Linked DNA regions of Homo sapiens. The protein of the gene in region 2 interacts with the protein of the main gene of each other region in a pairwise test. Each region holds a gene or a part of one and is shown on either strand. Other genes may lie near its edges.

Region 1 (5,019 bases), on a different chromosome or scaffold from region 2:
TTGTTTCTCCAGCAGCTACAGTCTTTGCTACCTTGTTTCTCTGATAGCCATGAAGAATGTTAGCAGCAGTTTGCCATGTTTCCTTACAGAAATACAGAAAACACAGGCCAAGCGTGGTGGCTCACGCCTGTAATCCCAGCACTTTCGGAGGCGGAGGAGGGAAATCTCTTTTGAGCTTGAGTTCAAGACCAGCCTGGGAAACATGGCGAAAACCCATCGCTGCAAAAAATACAAAGATTAGCCGGGTGTTGGTGGCGCAAGCCGGTTGCCCCAGCTACGCAAGAGGCTGAGGCACAAGAATCGTTTGAACCCGGGAGGCGGAGACTGCAGATTGCCGAGATCGCGCCATTGATTACTCCAGCATGGGCGACACAGCAAGAGTGAAAATAAACTTTAATACACTATCCTCACCGGCCAGTAAGATATGAAGCCAAGGCGTAATAAGACCATTTAACTTGAAAACCGGAGCTACTAAACACGTGAAACTACACTTTTAGCAGTGACTACTACTCTTTCTCCTGAGTGGATAGGTGGCCCTGAAAAGGGCCGTTGGTTTTGCGGTAGTGTACTGTAGAGGTAAGCTCAGCCGCCGAAGCCATAAAGAGTGCGTCCCTGGCGCTTGAGCGCGTACACCACGTCCATGGCTGTGACTGTCTTGCGTTTGGCGTGTTCCGTGTAGGTGACAGCATCGCGGATTACATTTTCCAGGAAAACTTTCAGCACTCCGCGAGTTTCCTCATAAATGAGGCCAGAAATACGCTTGACGCCGCCGCGGCGAGCCAGGCGGCGGATAGCGGGCTTGGTGATTCCTTGGATATTGTCACGCAATACCTTACGGTGACGCTTGGCGCCACCCTTACCTAGACCCTTTCCGCCCTTACCGCGGCCAGACATCTTGAAACCACAGCTGTTAAATCTGTAACGCAATACGTCTGGCAGAGCCACGCAGCACTTTTATAATAGCATGACGGACCTGTTTGAAAACCTCATGAGAAGGGGCGGGAACCACAGTCAGTTCCCGCCCTTCTGTGCAATTCTCCCTTGCTCAGACTGGAGGAGACCAAGAGGGGCCTGAGGCAACAAAAGAGCCTCAGCTGGGATTTAATAAATACTGCTAGGTATATATATATATATACACACACACTATACTTGCAGCCATTAACTGAGCCATCAGTTCATAAACTTTCGACAAAGAAGCCTGACAATTGTCCCCCACTTTTCCCAGAATATCAAATAATTAGTACTGTTTCCCTCACAGGGTGCTTTTTTTTTTTTTTTTTTTTTTTTTTTTTGAGACGGGTTCTTGCTCTGTTGCCCAGGCTGGAATGCAGTGGCACGATCTAGGCTCACTGCATCCTCTGCCTCCCGGATTCAAGCAATTCTCCTGCCTCAGCCTCCCGAGTAGCTGGGGTTACAGGCGCCCGCCACCATGCCCAGCTAATTTTGGTATTTTTTTAGTAGAGACGGGGTTTCACCATAGGCCAGGATGGTCTCGAACTCCTGACCTTGTGATCCACCTGCCTCGGCCTCCCAAAGTGCTAGGATTACAGGCGTGAGCCACCGCGCCGGGCCATAAGGTGCTTTCAAAGTATTTTAAGTAACTCATATCTTTATTGTCTCTGAGATTATTTTTATTGATTTATGCATTCCTAGTTAACCAAGCAGGGCTCTTTGGCATGCAGGCTAGATAGTGCTACTGAGGGAACTAAAAGTATATGAAAGTTACACATTTAGAGGTCAAATTAGGATAAGATCACCGAGGGCCGATTGAAAACATGACTATGTACACCCGTAAAAGAAAACCTTGTTGGGCTGAAATTTATGAAAATTTATGCTTTGATTGTGCCTTTAATCATGGACAGATTGTAGCTAGCACTGCATCATTCACCATATTCTATTACTCCAGCAAATTGGCATCATAGTATCCCTCCAAACTATCATAGAGACAGCCTGCTTGACATACATGCTGTGGGGGTGACCCTGGGCAAGCTATACTAAGTTTCCTTGTTGTAAATGTATTTTTAAAAATCTAACTTGTAAGTATTTGTTAAGTTGAAACAGATAATCCTATCAAAATGCTTAGAATAGTGTCTAGATTCCAAATAAGCAATGACTAAACATTAATTATGGTATAGTACAATATTGTGGGTGTTTTCAATTCCTATCCTTAAGGTTCACCCTTCTAAAGGGATGAGAGACAGTATTCTAATTTGCTAAAATCTGATTTCGAGAACTCCTCAAAATAATAAATAATTAAAAACTTAACTCATCATTAATCCCCATAAAAAGTTCCAGGTCCTTTGGGTGGAATATTTGGCTTTTCCTTCATGACTTGTGAGAAGAACCAAGTTTATCACAGCTGTTTGCTGTTTATTGAGTTTATGGTACATGGAAAAGATTGCAGAGTAAGGTTCTTAGCCTGGGATACATAGAAAGTCTTCAGGGGATCTGGGAATGAGTATAGAAAAAAAAAAAGTCAAATCTTTTTTTTTTCTTTTTACTATTCTCCAACAGAAACAGCATTTTTTCTGTGTATGAACTCAGGCAACAAACAGTGTAATTGGCAGGACAAGTGCTTCTATTTATATCACATTCTCATTGCCAATATCTCGAAATTTCATTTAAAAATCTCAATCCTAAAGCCGGGTGCAGTGGCTCACGCCTGTAATCCCAGCACTTTGGGAGGCAAAGGCGGGAGGATCACGAGGTCAGGAGATGGAGACAATCCTGGCTAACACAGTGAAACCCCATCTCTACTAAAAATACAAAAAAATTAGCCGGACATGGTGGCGGGCACCTGTAGTCCCAGCTACTCAGGAGGTTGAGACAGGAGAATGGCGTGAACCTGGGAGGTGGAACTTGCAGTGAGCAGAGATCGTGCCACTGCACTCCAGCCTGGGCAAAACAGCAAGACTCCATCTCAAAAAAAAAACAAAAAAACAAAAAAAAACCTCAATCCTTCAAAACTATAATAAGTCTTAGTCATATGGGTAGATTATTATTTAATGTATTAATTTAAAAAGGACATATGCCAGGCCATGGCTTATGCCTGTAACTCCCAGCTCTTTGAAAGGCCCAGATGGGAGGATCACTTGAGGCCAGGAGTTCCAGACCAGTCTAGCCAACATGGCAAAACCATGTCTCTACTAAAAATGCAAAAATTTATCAGGCATGGTGGCGCACAGCTACTTGGGTAGCTAATCGCTTGAACCTGAGAAGCAGAGGATGCACTGAGCCAAGATCGTACCATTGCACTCCAGCCTGGGCAACAGTGAGACTCTGTCTCAAAATCAGTAAGTAAATAAAATAAAAAATTTAAAAGCACATATGTTAATATTTCACCAATTTAGATTTTTTATAATTTGATAATGGCATACTAATATAATTGTTTCACTTTGCATTCCTATATATTATCTAATGCATTTAAAACCACTATTCTGCGCGGGGCATGGTGGCTCATGCCTGTCATCCCAGCACTTTGGGAGGCCGAGGTGGGTGGATCACCTGAGGTCAAGAGGTCGAGACCAGCCTGGCAACGTGGTGAAACCGCGTCTCTACTAAAAATACAAAAATTAGCTGGGAATGGTGGTGCATACCTGTAATCCCAGCTACTTGGGAGACTGAGGCAAGAGAATTGCTTGAACCTGGGAGGCAGAAGTTATAGTGAGACAAGATTAAGTCACTGTAATCCAGCCTGGGTGACGAGTGAAATTCCATCTCAAAAATAAATAAATAAATAAATATTATTCTGGCCGGGTGCGGTGGCTCACGCCTGTAATCCTAGCACTTTGGGAAGCCAAGGCTGGTGGATCACTTGAGCCCAGTTCAAGAGCAGCCTGGGTAACATGGAGAAACCCTGACACTACTAAAAATACAAACATTAGCTGGGCATGGTGGCATGCTCTTGTAATCCCAGCTACATGGGAGGCTGAGGCACAAGAATCACTTGAACCCGGAAGGCAGAGGTTGCAGTGAGCCAAGATTGCACCACTGCACTCCAGCCTGGGCGACAGAGTGAGACTCCATCTCAATAAATAAATAAGTAAATAAATAAAATAAAATCCTTCTTAGAAGGAGAGGCATAGTATGGGCCACTCAGAGCTAAATGGTGAAAACTTGAGCAAGTTACCTATTTTATAATTGATCTGCATCCTCAGTGGTGTATAATGTCTCACCTAGTTATTCAGTTTAAAATGAAAAACAAGAGTCAAGCACTACTATGTCAACAATACTGCACAGGGCATACTGCTGCAGAAAACAATCATTTGGGGAGTAGCCATAAAGGCAAAATAAAGAAATGGAAAGTTAAGGACACTTGAGTTATGTTCTGGTTCCACACAATTCCCTATATGCATTTCTGCAAGTTTTTTTACATAAATATTTGTATGCCGTACTATAATACTAATCTGTACTTTTAGATGTTTGTAAACTACTAGGAAGATTTAAAAGTGGACAAGTATGCAGATAATACGAGACAGATTATAATGGCCTTTTACGAAATCGATGTAGGGGGCCTGGTGCCGTGGCTCATGCCTCTAGTTGCAGCACTGTGGGAGGCGGAGGCGGGCACATCACAGGGTCAGGAGTTAGAGATCAGCCTGGCCAATACAGTGAAACCCTGTCACTAGTGTCTACTAAAAATACAAAAATTAGCTGGGCGTGGTGGCGCGCGCCTGTAGTCCTAGCTACTCAGGAGGCTGAGGCAGAAGAATCGCTTGAACCTGGGAGACGGAGGTTGCAGTGAGCCAAGATCACGCCACTGCACTCCAGGCTGGGCAACGGAGTGAGAGTCCATCTCAAAAAGAGAAAAAAAAGAAAGACATCAATGTAAGAATTCAAAACAGAGAGAGATCTCATCTATTTTGAGAGATGGGGAATGAAAAATATAAAAATTTCAAAGTATGTCATTAGATTAGTTTGAAGTTTAAAACAGGGTGGGGGAGAGAGAAAAAAAGAAGAAAAAAACTGAAAAAAGATACTCTGCAAGGTAATATAATTAGACCAAGATCACATAGCTGC
Region 2 (4,917 bases):
AACAGGAAAACAATCAGCTACAAAATCACCAGTGTCTCCTGGATTCCAATCCTTGGTCAACAGTGCTAGATCTACAGAAGCAAAACTAAAATTTTTTTTCTTTCACAGAGTAGTTTTAAGCCTCCAAGCGTTTGAATCTTTAAAATGTCATTCAGGGACTTTAAATGAAGTAGTGAAGGCTGGGCACGGTGGCTCACACCTGTAATCCCAGCACTTTGGGAGGCCAAGGCGGGTGGATTACTTGAGGCCAGGAATTTGAGAACAGCCTGGCCAACGTGGTGAAACCCCATCTCTACTAAAAATACAAAAAATTAGCCGGGTGTGGTGGCGAGCACCTATAGTCCCAGCTACTCAGGAGGCTGAGGCACAAAAATCGCTTAAACCCAGGAGGTGGAGGTTCCAACGAGCCAAGTTCGCGCTGCTGCACTCCAGCCTGCGTGACACAGTGAGACTGTCTCCATAAATAAATAAATGGGAAAAAAGCAGACGAAGCATACTGGTTTCTCTTTTTAACCTTTATTTACAAAGAACACAACTCCTCTTGACACAAACACACACACATTTCAAGGAGGAGCCCATTAAGAACAACAACAGACTGGCGAGAATGACGGGGCCTTATTGAACACTGTCAATAAGGAACACTGGTCTGTGTACCCCAGACTAGGGGTCACTGCAAACATTTTCTCAGATATGACTTTTCACCTCCAAGACAGGAAAAGAGATCTTGACGTGGAGGCCCGCCCACCTACAAGGCAGAAAGCTCCACACTCAATCTTCAGCATCGTCAAACTGTCCTGTTTCAAAGACCATCTTGGAATAATAGGGTATCAGTGGAGGCGGATGGTGCCAGCTGGGGTCATAGATCATGTCTCCTTGTGGGGCACAGCACACCCAAGGTTTAAGCTCTTGAGAAATGCTCTCCTGGATGTCGTCAGCATCTGCAGGCAGTTTTAAAAGACAGATTAAGGGAAGGAAGGAGGGAAGGAAGGAAGGTAAAAACGGACAGCCAAAAAGGTATGTCTAGGGGACAGATCCTTGCACTTATTTTGTTTAAAAACACACACAGTTCTCCTTTCCTGAAGAATTGTAAATGCGTTCATTCGGAACAGCTGAGAAGCTATGCTTCTCAGACAAGGGTTCTTAGCAGTGAAGAAGCAAACTGGATAACACAGCACTTCTATCTGCAGCTGCTCAATTCATAGCAGAGATTTTTGGAGAGAGTAACAGTTTTGACTTTAAAACAGTGATACATTATGGAGTCAAATGCAAAATTTGGATTTTTTCAATATAAAAGAGAAGGTGTCACAGAAATTGGAGACCTGTAACAGATACCAGCCTAAGCTCATAGATGTGGACCCCTGTTCCAAACTGCCTTCAGGGCTGGTCTGACAGGTGTGTCTGAGAAGGCCTAGTTCAGGACCCCCAGAGACTCCACACCTACCATATGGATTCCCTTGATCTGCTTTCAACTCCGAGTCCCAGTCCTCATTAAAAAGATCGCCAGGCTGTTCCTTGGGTGGACAGTTTGTCCCTTCTGACAGCTCCCAGGTATTCAGTTCTCCATCAGAGTCCTCCTCATCCATGGCAAAGCCTTCCTCTTCAGAATGGGTGCCCTCACCCCGGGCAGGACTGTCATTAGGAATGCTCTGTGTTCCACGGGCTAAATTGACAAAGAGAAGATGGCCTTAGTGACAAACCAAAGAGGACCTGCTCTGTGCTCAGTAAATTTTGGGCAGACTTACTACGAAGGTAGTAAAACAAGTGCACAGAGTCTTCTTTAGCCACCGAGCACTTTTTTAAAAATGCACTTCTTTGTATGTTTTTAAAAGAGCTGATAATTTATTTTCAATAAGACGTTTTGTCTTATACAAGGCATTAATTGTCAGGTCCTTTAATTTACAAAGAGGGCTAGGGACAGTTAACATTTTCAGGTGGTTTGTATGTCACTGAGGCAAAGGGCCTCTGATAAATAATACACTTTCACAATACAAGCCTGAATTAAGTTTTTGCTCTTTTTTTTTTTTTTTTGAGACAGAGTCTCGCTCTGTCGCCCAGGCTGGAATGCAATGGCACCATCTCGGCTCACTGCAACCTCTACCTCCCAGGTTCAAGCAATTCTCTGCCTCAGCCTCCTGAGCAGCTGGGATTACAAGCGCCCGCCACCACGCCCAGCTAATTTTTTTGTATTTTTAGTAGAGACGGGGTTTCACCATCTTGGCCAGGCTGGTCTTGAACCCCTGACCTTGTGATCCACCCGCCTCGGCCTCCCAAAGTGCTGGGATTACAGGCGTAAGCCACTGTGCCCGGTTGTTTTTGCTCTTTTATTCCTCCCTTCAGCCTCAAAGAGCATGTTAGAGGTGAGCACAGGGACAAAGGGGAGCAGGGGCACTGCAGGCAGAAGACCAGAACCCATCTAATCACAATGGGCAGCACCTAGTGCCTCCCTCTGACATCAGGGAGGCCGGAAGGTACATTTTCAAAAGGCCTCACAATAACGGAGGAAAGACTGGGGAAAGATAATGGATTTCCGAGCACATAGTGCTTTGGTGATGCCAGGTCCCAGGAGAGAAGGCAATCAGCCTAAAACAGCCATGCTCTTAATACTGGAACAACAGTAACAGTGATAAGCAATAAAGTGATAGTTCAGAGCAAGGGGTCTAAAGCCAGACTGTCTGATTTCAAATCCGTGTTTTGTCAATTACCAAACATCGGACTGGGCCGGGCACGGTAGCTCACCCTTGTAAACCTAGCACTTTGGGAGGCCAAGGTGGGTGGACTGCTTGAGCTCAGGAGTTCAAGGCCAGCCTGAACAATGTCGCAAACCCTGTCTCTACAAAAAATTCAAAAAATTTAGCTGGGTGCAGTGGCATGCACCTGTAATCCCAGCTACTCAAGAGGCTGAGGTGGGAGGATCGCTTGAACCTGGGAGGTGGAGGCTGCAGTGAGCCAAGATCGTGCCATTGCACAGAGTGAGACCCTGTCTCCAAAAAAAAAAAAAAAAAAAAAAAAAAAAGTGTGATTGAGCTGAAATTTACTTAACTAGTTCCATAACATAAATATAGAATTACCATATGACCCAGCAATCCCAGTCCTAAACATATACCCAAAAGAACTGAAAACAGCTGTTCAAATAAAACAAGGATACTCACAGCAGCACTATTTACAATCACCAAAAGGTAGACACAACATCAAATGTCCATCAATGGATGAATGGAAAAACAAAATGTGGTATATGCATATGATGGAATTATTCAGCCATAAAAAGGAATGCAGTGCTGATACATGCTACGGCATGGATGCACCTTGAAAATACGCTAAGTGGAAGAAGCCAGACACAAAAGGCCACATATTGTTATGATTCCCTTTACAGGCAACTCACATTTGCCTATCCAGAACAGATAAACCCACAGAGACAGAAAGCAAATTAGTGGTTGCCAAGAGCTCAGAGAAGGAAGGAATGGAGAATGACTACTTGGTGAGCACAGGGTTTCCTTTTAGGGTGATGAAAAGATTCTGGAACTAGGTAGTGGTGATGGTTGCACAACACTGCCATTGTGCTAAAAGGCTACTGAATTATATGCGTTAAAATGGTTACATGGTAAATTTAGGTTATGCATCTTTTACCACAATTTTTAAATTGTTTTTATTTAACTGTTCTGTGCCTCAACTTCCACATCTGTAAAATGAAGATAGGGTTGTTGTGAGAGTTAAAAGAAAAAAAAAGGCCAGGCACGGTGGCTCATGCCTGTAATCCCAGCACTTTGGGAGGCCGAGGTGGGCGGATCACCTGAGGTCAGGAGTTTGAGACCAGCCTGGCCAACATGGTGAAAGCCCCTCTCCACTAAAAATACAAAAATTAGGCCGGGAGCAGTGGCTCACGCCTGTAATCCCAGCACTTTGGGTGGCCAAGGAGGGCAGATCACGAGGTCAGGAGATCGAGACCATCCTAACAAGGTAAAATCCTATCTCTACTAAAAACACAAAAAATTAGCCAGGCGTGGTGGCGGGTGCCTGTGGTCCCAGCTACTCGGGAGGCTGAGGCAGGAGAATGGTGTGAACCCAGGGGGCAGAGTTTGCAGTGAGCCGAGATAGTGCCACTGCCTGGGAGACAGAGCGAGACTCCGTCTCAAAAAATAAATAAATAAATAAATAAATAAATACAAAAATTAGCCAGGCGATATGGTGCACGCCTGTAATCCCAGCTACTCAGGAGGCTGAGGCACGAGAATCACTTGAACCCGGGAGACAGAGGTTGCAGTGAGCCAAGATTGCGACACTGCACTCCAGCCTGGGTGACAGAGTGAGACTCCATCTCAAAAAAAAAAAAGAAAAAGAAAAAAAGGGGCCAAGCGTGGTAGCTCACACCTGTAATCCCAGCACTCTGAGAGGCTGAGGCAGATGGATCAGGTGAGGTCAGGAGTTCGAGACCAGCCTGGCTAACATGGTGAAACCCCATCTCTACTAAAAATACAAAAATTAGCTGGGCATGGTGGCATATGCCTGTAATCCAGCTACTTGGGAGGCTGAGGTAGGAGAATGCTTGAATCCAGGAGGCAGAGGTTGCAGTGAGCCAAGATTGTGCCATTGCACTCCAGCCTGGGCAACAAGAGCAAAACTCCCTCTCAAAAAAAAAAAAAAACGGCAGGGGGCTGGGCACAGTGGCTCATGCCTTTGTAATCCCAGCACTTTGGGAGCGTGGGCTCACAGTAATCCCAGCACTTTGGGAGGCCTAGGTGGGCAGATCACTTGAGATCAGGAGTTCGAGACCAGCCTGGCCAACATAGTAAAACCCCATAGCTACTAAAAATACAAAAGTTAGCTGGGTGTGGTGGCGCGTGCCTGTAGTTCCAGCTACTCGGGAGGCTGAGGCAGGAGAATTGCTTTAACCTGGGAAGCGGAGGTTGCGGTGAGCTGACA
Region 3 (5,526 bases), on a different chromosome or scaffold from region 2:
TTTCCTCATACAGACATGTTAATGAAAATGAATTTCTACAGGATCTCCAGTCCATTGAAATACATTAATTTTTGAGTCTCTTCACACATTTTTATTTCCTAGATTTAAGTCTTGATTGCAATCACATACAACTAGTATTTCTTGGAATAAAACAGCAATCACAAAAATCATAAATATCACATTGTTTAAAAAAATTTATTATTTGATGTTGAGGACTCCATCCTGATTTCAATGAATTAATTCATTTGTTCCCTTTTAAAATGTCATCTGTGTTATTTATGTGTATAAATTTTCAATAATTGTTTCTCAATATAGAGTAAATGATACAGCTCCATAGAAGGCCTGTAAGATTTTTGAAATTAAAATAAGTTTTTAAATAAAATATGCTGTTATGATCATTGAAGTTGATAATAAAATTATTCCATTGATTCTGTTTCTCCCAAGAACCACCATTTAATCATGAAAGCTAGCTAAGTAATATTTTTCAGAGTTCGTGAGTTCCAGAAGTAAAATTCTTTAAGCTAAACAGCTTGTAAAGTAACTTTTGCTTTATAATTATTATAATTTTGGGTGTTATTTATGCAAACTCAAATCAATGTACTCATAATCAAAACATTGACATGCAAACTTATGTATTAAGCAAAATAAAATATACAAGTGTGATATATCATTGTTTATAATTCCACATACACATGTAAAGGAAAATGGAGGAGCTGTTAAATGAGTAGCTTCACAGTAAGTAAACTAGAGGAGGCAACCTAAAGATCAGAGAGATCCAAGGGGCAAGGAGCAATTAGGAACATTTATAGTGCCTTATCACTTCATGGTATTATATCATCTGTGAAATATTGAATTAAATGAATGTCCTTACTGATTTGATGCCCTCTGAAGGTTTGTTGAAAAATCAGACATGAGGTAGATTAATAGAAAAAAAGGCAGACAAATTTACAATGTGCATGGGGAGAATCAGTGATTGCCCACCCCAGAACGTGGTTCAGAAGTTTATATACCATCCTTGAAAAACAGTTTGAGGGAGGGAGAAGAGGAATTCATTTGAGGGGATTACTAGGAAGAATGAATGGATCAGGGAAAAGAAATTAAACTTGTACCTTATCTTGTGAAATGAGCTGTTCGGGTGTGATTACATTCGTCTTACAGGGACTCATTTTTGGTGAGTCCAGATAACAGGAAGACAAAGGTTGGGGAGTGGGAGAAGGTCAAAGAGACTTTGAGGCTTCTGCAGTTCAGCTTGTCACCATGCCATAGTTTGGGGTATTGGTTTCTGAGCCCCGACATTGACAATATGTACTAAAAATAAATATTTGTTATTTAAATTAACTACTTAATGTGTTATACATAATTAGATAAATTGATGTATTAACATATTTAAAGTATAATATAAACAAAATATTTGTAAATTAGTTGTAAAGAAAAAAATTACGTATATTAAATAGAGGTTGGCTTTCTGCTTAATATTTTACATACATTATCTCCATTGTTTTATTTTTTTAATTTTTTTTATTTTTTAGATGAAGGTCTTGTGATGTTGCCCAGGCTGATCTCTGACTCCTGAGCTTGCACAATCCTCCCACTCCTGAACACATGCAATCCCCCCACCTCAGCCTCCAGAGTAGCTGGGACTACAGGCAGGCTACTGAGACTGGCCTCCATTAATTCTTACAGTACCTCAAAGAGGTAAATACTGTAGGGGCTAAGGGAAGTTTCATAGAAAATCAACTGACAAAAGACAGAATAATGGGAGAAATGGCACAGAAATTTAATAATGTGCACGAGGGAGAATTACAAAGTGATTACCCCAGTCCCTAAAGGAGTACAGAAGCTTATGTAACTTTTTTCATAGGGGAAGGAGGAGATGGGAAAGGTAGACAATTCCTTTGAGGGGCAATAAAGGCTTGTTATGGAAAATAAATGGGCCACAGAAAGAAATTAGCTTGTAAATGATTGTCTTCATAATTTATTTATTTATTTTGAGATGGGGTCTTAATCCGTCTCCCAGGCTGTCACCCAGGCTGGAGTGCAGTGGCACAGTCTCCACTCACTGCAACCTCCACCTCTGGGATTCAAGTGATCCTCCTACCTCAGGCTCCCTAGTAGCTGCGACCACAGGCATGCACCACTACAACTGGCTAATTTTTTTTTTTTTCAGACAGAGTTTCACTCTTGTTGCCCAGGTTGGAGTGCAATGGTGCAATCTCGGCTCACTGCAACCTCCGCCTCCCAGGTTCAAGTGATTCTCCTGCCTCAGCCTCCCAAGTAGCTGGGATTACAGGCATGTGACACCACCTGGCTAATTTTTTGTATATTTTGTAGAGACAGGGATTCGCCATGTTGGCCAGGCTGGTCTCGAACTCCTGAGCTCAAGGGATCCACCTGCCTCGACCTCCCACAGTGCTGGGATTAGTGGGAGGAGCCACAGCACCTAGTATGTCTTGGTAATTTAAATGAGACCGAGAGGCAGACATTATCTTGAAAAATCCATATTCAGTATTCTTTTCTGCAATAATGAAATAACAGGGAGGGGATAGAAGGCAATTGTTACTTCTGGTAAGAAATTTTCTTGGTCCGATTAGGAAATGTCAGAGTCCCTTCGCATGTATGGGAAAGAAGACGAAGTTAGAGGGGCTTTGATTCTGAAGCTTATTTCTGAGGCCTTTCAATGTTCAAAAGCGCTCAGCATGCCCAAGAACCACATTTTGGGGAATCATTCTGCACCCCAACAGTACCGTCACTATCCTATTCTAACTTTGTAGATGAGCAAAGATTTAAAAAGAATAAACAAGTCACCTCGTGTCTGATCGGTAACAAGTCAGCTCGAGTCTGAAAGGTAAACATTTAATCTAAAACCAAAGTTTTCTATTTCCAGAGTTTCAACTCTTAACTACTTTCTAAACAAAGAATTGAATACTAAGAGATTATATTAGAATAGTTATAGGAGTTTTATAATTTTCATTGATGTTAAAATAATTTCAGAGTGGCCGAGCGCAGTGGCTCAAGCCTGTAATCCCAGCACATTGGGAGGCCGAGGCATATGGATCACGAGGTCGGGAGTTGGAGACTAGCCTGGCCAACATGGTGAAACCCCGTCTCTACTAAAGATACAAAAAAATTAGCCGGGCGTGGTGGTGAGTGCCTGTAATCCCAGCTACTCAGGGGAGGCTGAGGTGGGAGAATCGCTTGAACCCGGGAGGTGGAGGTTGCAGTGAGCCAAGATTGGGCCATTGCACTCCAGCCTGAGCGAAAGGGCGAGACTCCGTCTCCACAAAAAAAAAAAAAAAAAAAAAAATTCAGAGTATAACCCTGTATTTATTAATAAGAAAGAAAATCAAATATACGGAATCAAAGTTGCTCCATAATGGTTGATAACAAATCTTTAGTTGGGTCATATAAAAGTGTCTTTTTAAAAACCTACAAGCGTCCAAGCGAAGCGGCTCACGCCTGTAATCCCAGCACTTTGGGAGGCTGAGGCGGGCGGATCACGATGTCAAGAGATCAAGAGCATCCTGTCCAACATGGTGAAACTTGTTCTTTACTAAAAATACAAAAAATTAGCTGGGCGTGGTGGCGCATGCCTGTAGTCCGCGCTAATCCGGAGGTTGAGGCATGAGAATCGCTTGAACCCGGGAGGTGGAGGTTGCAGTGAGCCGAGATTGCACCACTGCCCTCCGGCCTGACGACAGAGCGAGACTCCTTCCAAAAAAAAAAAAAAACCCCACACACAAAACCTACAAACACCAATTTTCTAGTTATAAGAGCTTGTTTTAAGGATTTTAATTCTATTCCAATTAAGTCCTAAAGCTAATGCAATTATCAAAATCTCGAAGAGATTTTATTCAAACTTCACAAAAGGTCTCTAAAGTTGTCCAGAAACCTTGGTGAAACAGATTAGGAAATTTGGAAAGGAAATAATGCGGAGACCCGTAGTACCAAATCATGAGACCTCTAATACAATTTTAAATATTAATGTAATAAAATTTAAATTTTGGTGTAATAAAATCATAAATTTCAATATTGGTCCCAAGTATAGAGAAAAAGTACATTTATGTTGAATGTGGAAAACATTATTTTTAAAATACAGCCGATTAAAAAATTGCTGGGGAACTGATTATAACTATTGATAATTCCTAAGAAACATAGACACCAAAACATCACTTTTATCTCTTTAATAGAAATTGGTTAAATTATAATCAATATAAGGAGGTTACAAAACTCCATATACAACACTGTATACATTTTCTTGGAAAAATATGTGCAACTGCTCTGCAAAATACATGATTAACTAGCCTGTGTGATGGGATAACATTGTAGTTTCTTAATTTCTTGTCCTTTCTTGTATTTCCCACAGTATTGATGTATATCTTCTGCGTTCAAAAGCAATTTTTTAAAGCCTCATAACGTGGTAACAAAATACTATGCACGTTACAAAATTCAGAACACGGAAACAAGAAGCTCGCTTTTTTTTTCCCCCTATTTCGGTTTGGCCCTTTAGATTTCCCCTCCCCCACCGGGGCGGGACTTCCCGCCGACTTCTTTCAGGTTCTCAGTTCGGTCCGCCAACTGTCGTATAAAGGCGCTGCCTCAGGCCAGAGTCCTCACAAAGCGTTGGGTGAGACTCCTCTTGCTCGTCATGTCTGGCCGCGGCAAAGGCGGGAAGGGTCTTGGCAAAGGCGGCGCTAAGCGCCACCGTAAAGTACTGCGCGACAATATCCAGGGCATCACCAAGCCGGCCATCCGGCGCCTTGCTCGCCGCGGCGGCGTGAAGCGCATCTCCGGCCTCATCTACGAGGAGACTCGCGGGGTGCTGAAGGTGTTCCTGGAGAACGTGATCCGGGACGCCGTGACCTATACAGAGCACGCCAAGCGCAAGACGGTCACCGCCATGGATGTGGTCTACGCGCTCAAGCGCCAGGGCCGCACCCTCTACGGTTTCGGTGGTTGAGCGTCCCTTTCTATCAACAAAAGGCCCTTTTTAGGGCCCCCACTTTCTCAGCTGAGGAGCCGTGATGCTTGTTTGCCCAGTTTCTCTTTACCATTTGTTCGCGCCTGCTGAGTTTGTGCTGCTATCGGAGCATGCGTCTCTAGTCGCTGTAAGTAGGCATCAGTCACTAATCGCTCTCCAGTAAATAAAATACCCAACACAACTTGTTTCAGGTGCTCCAGAGCTTACTGACATGGGCCGTCGCGCAGACTGTAGTGCAGTGTCATCATGGCTCACTGTAGCCTCCCGATTAGCCGGAACCTCGCGCCCACCACCACGCAAGGCTAATTATTTTTCCAAAGACCGGGTCTCCGTGTGTTTCCCAGGCTAGTTTCGATATCCTGGCCTCAATCCCCTCGCCTATGCCTAATGTTGGTATTACAGTAGTGAGCCACCACGCCTGGCCACGATACTGTTGAGGTTTTAGGGTTAGTTACATTTAAGGGGCAATTTTCGCAGTGTAGTGGGGAGGAAAGTCAAGCAGTTATAGGTTTCTGGCGCTGTGAATCCAACTGCTGAACATAGCAAGA

What was found. The genes of interacting proteins can lie anywhere in the genome.
Region 1: the proteins of COPRS (region 2) and H4C4 interact in binary tests that used the Homo sapiens proteins (3 or more experiments, as listed by UniProt).
Region 3: the proteins of COPRS (region 2) and H4C12 interact in binary tests that used the Homo sapiens proteins (3 or more experiments, as listed by UniProt).

The regions. Positions count from the first base shown.
Region 1 is NC_000006.12:26,188,183-26,193,201, forward strand, and holds H4C4 (histone H4), read right to left. Parts: upstream 931-5,019; 5' UTR 895-930; coding exon 583-894; 3' UTR 528-582; downstream 1-527. UniProt on the Homo sapiens protein: Core component of nucleosome. Nucleosomes wrap and compact DNA into chromatin, limiting DNA accessibility to the cellular machineries which require DNA as a template.
Region 2 is NC_000017.11:31,851,371-31,856,287, forward strand, and holds the end of COPRS (coordinator of PRMT5 and differentiation stimulator), read right to left. Parts: intron 1,661-4,917; coding exon 1,442-1,660; intron 939-1,441; coding exon 769-938; 3' UTR 501-768; downstream 1-500. UniProt on the Homo sapiens protein: Histone-binding protein required for histone H4 methyltransferase activity of PRMT5.
Region 3 is NC_000006.12:27,830,647-27,836,172, reverse strand, and holds H4C12 (histone H4), read left to right. Parts: upstream 1-4,612; 5' UTR 4,613-4,645; coding exon 4,646-4,957; 3' UTR 4,958-4,999; downstream 5,000-5,526. UniProt on the Homo sapiens protein: Core component of nucleosome. Nucleosomes wrap and compact DNA into chromatin, limiting DNA accessibility to the cellular machineries which require DNA as a template.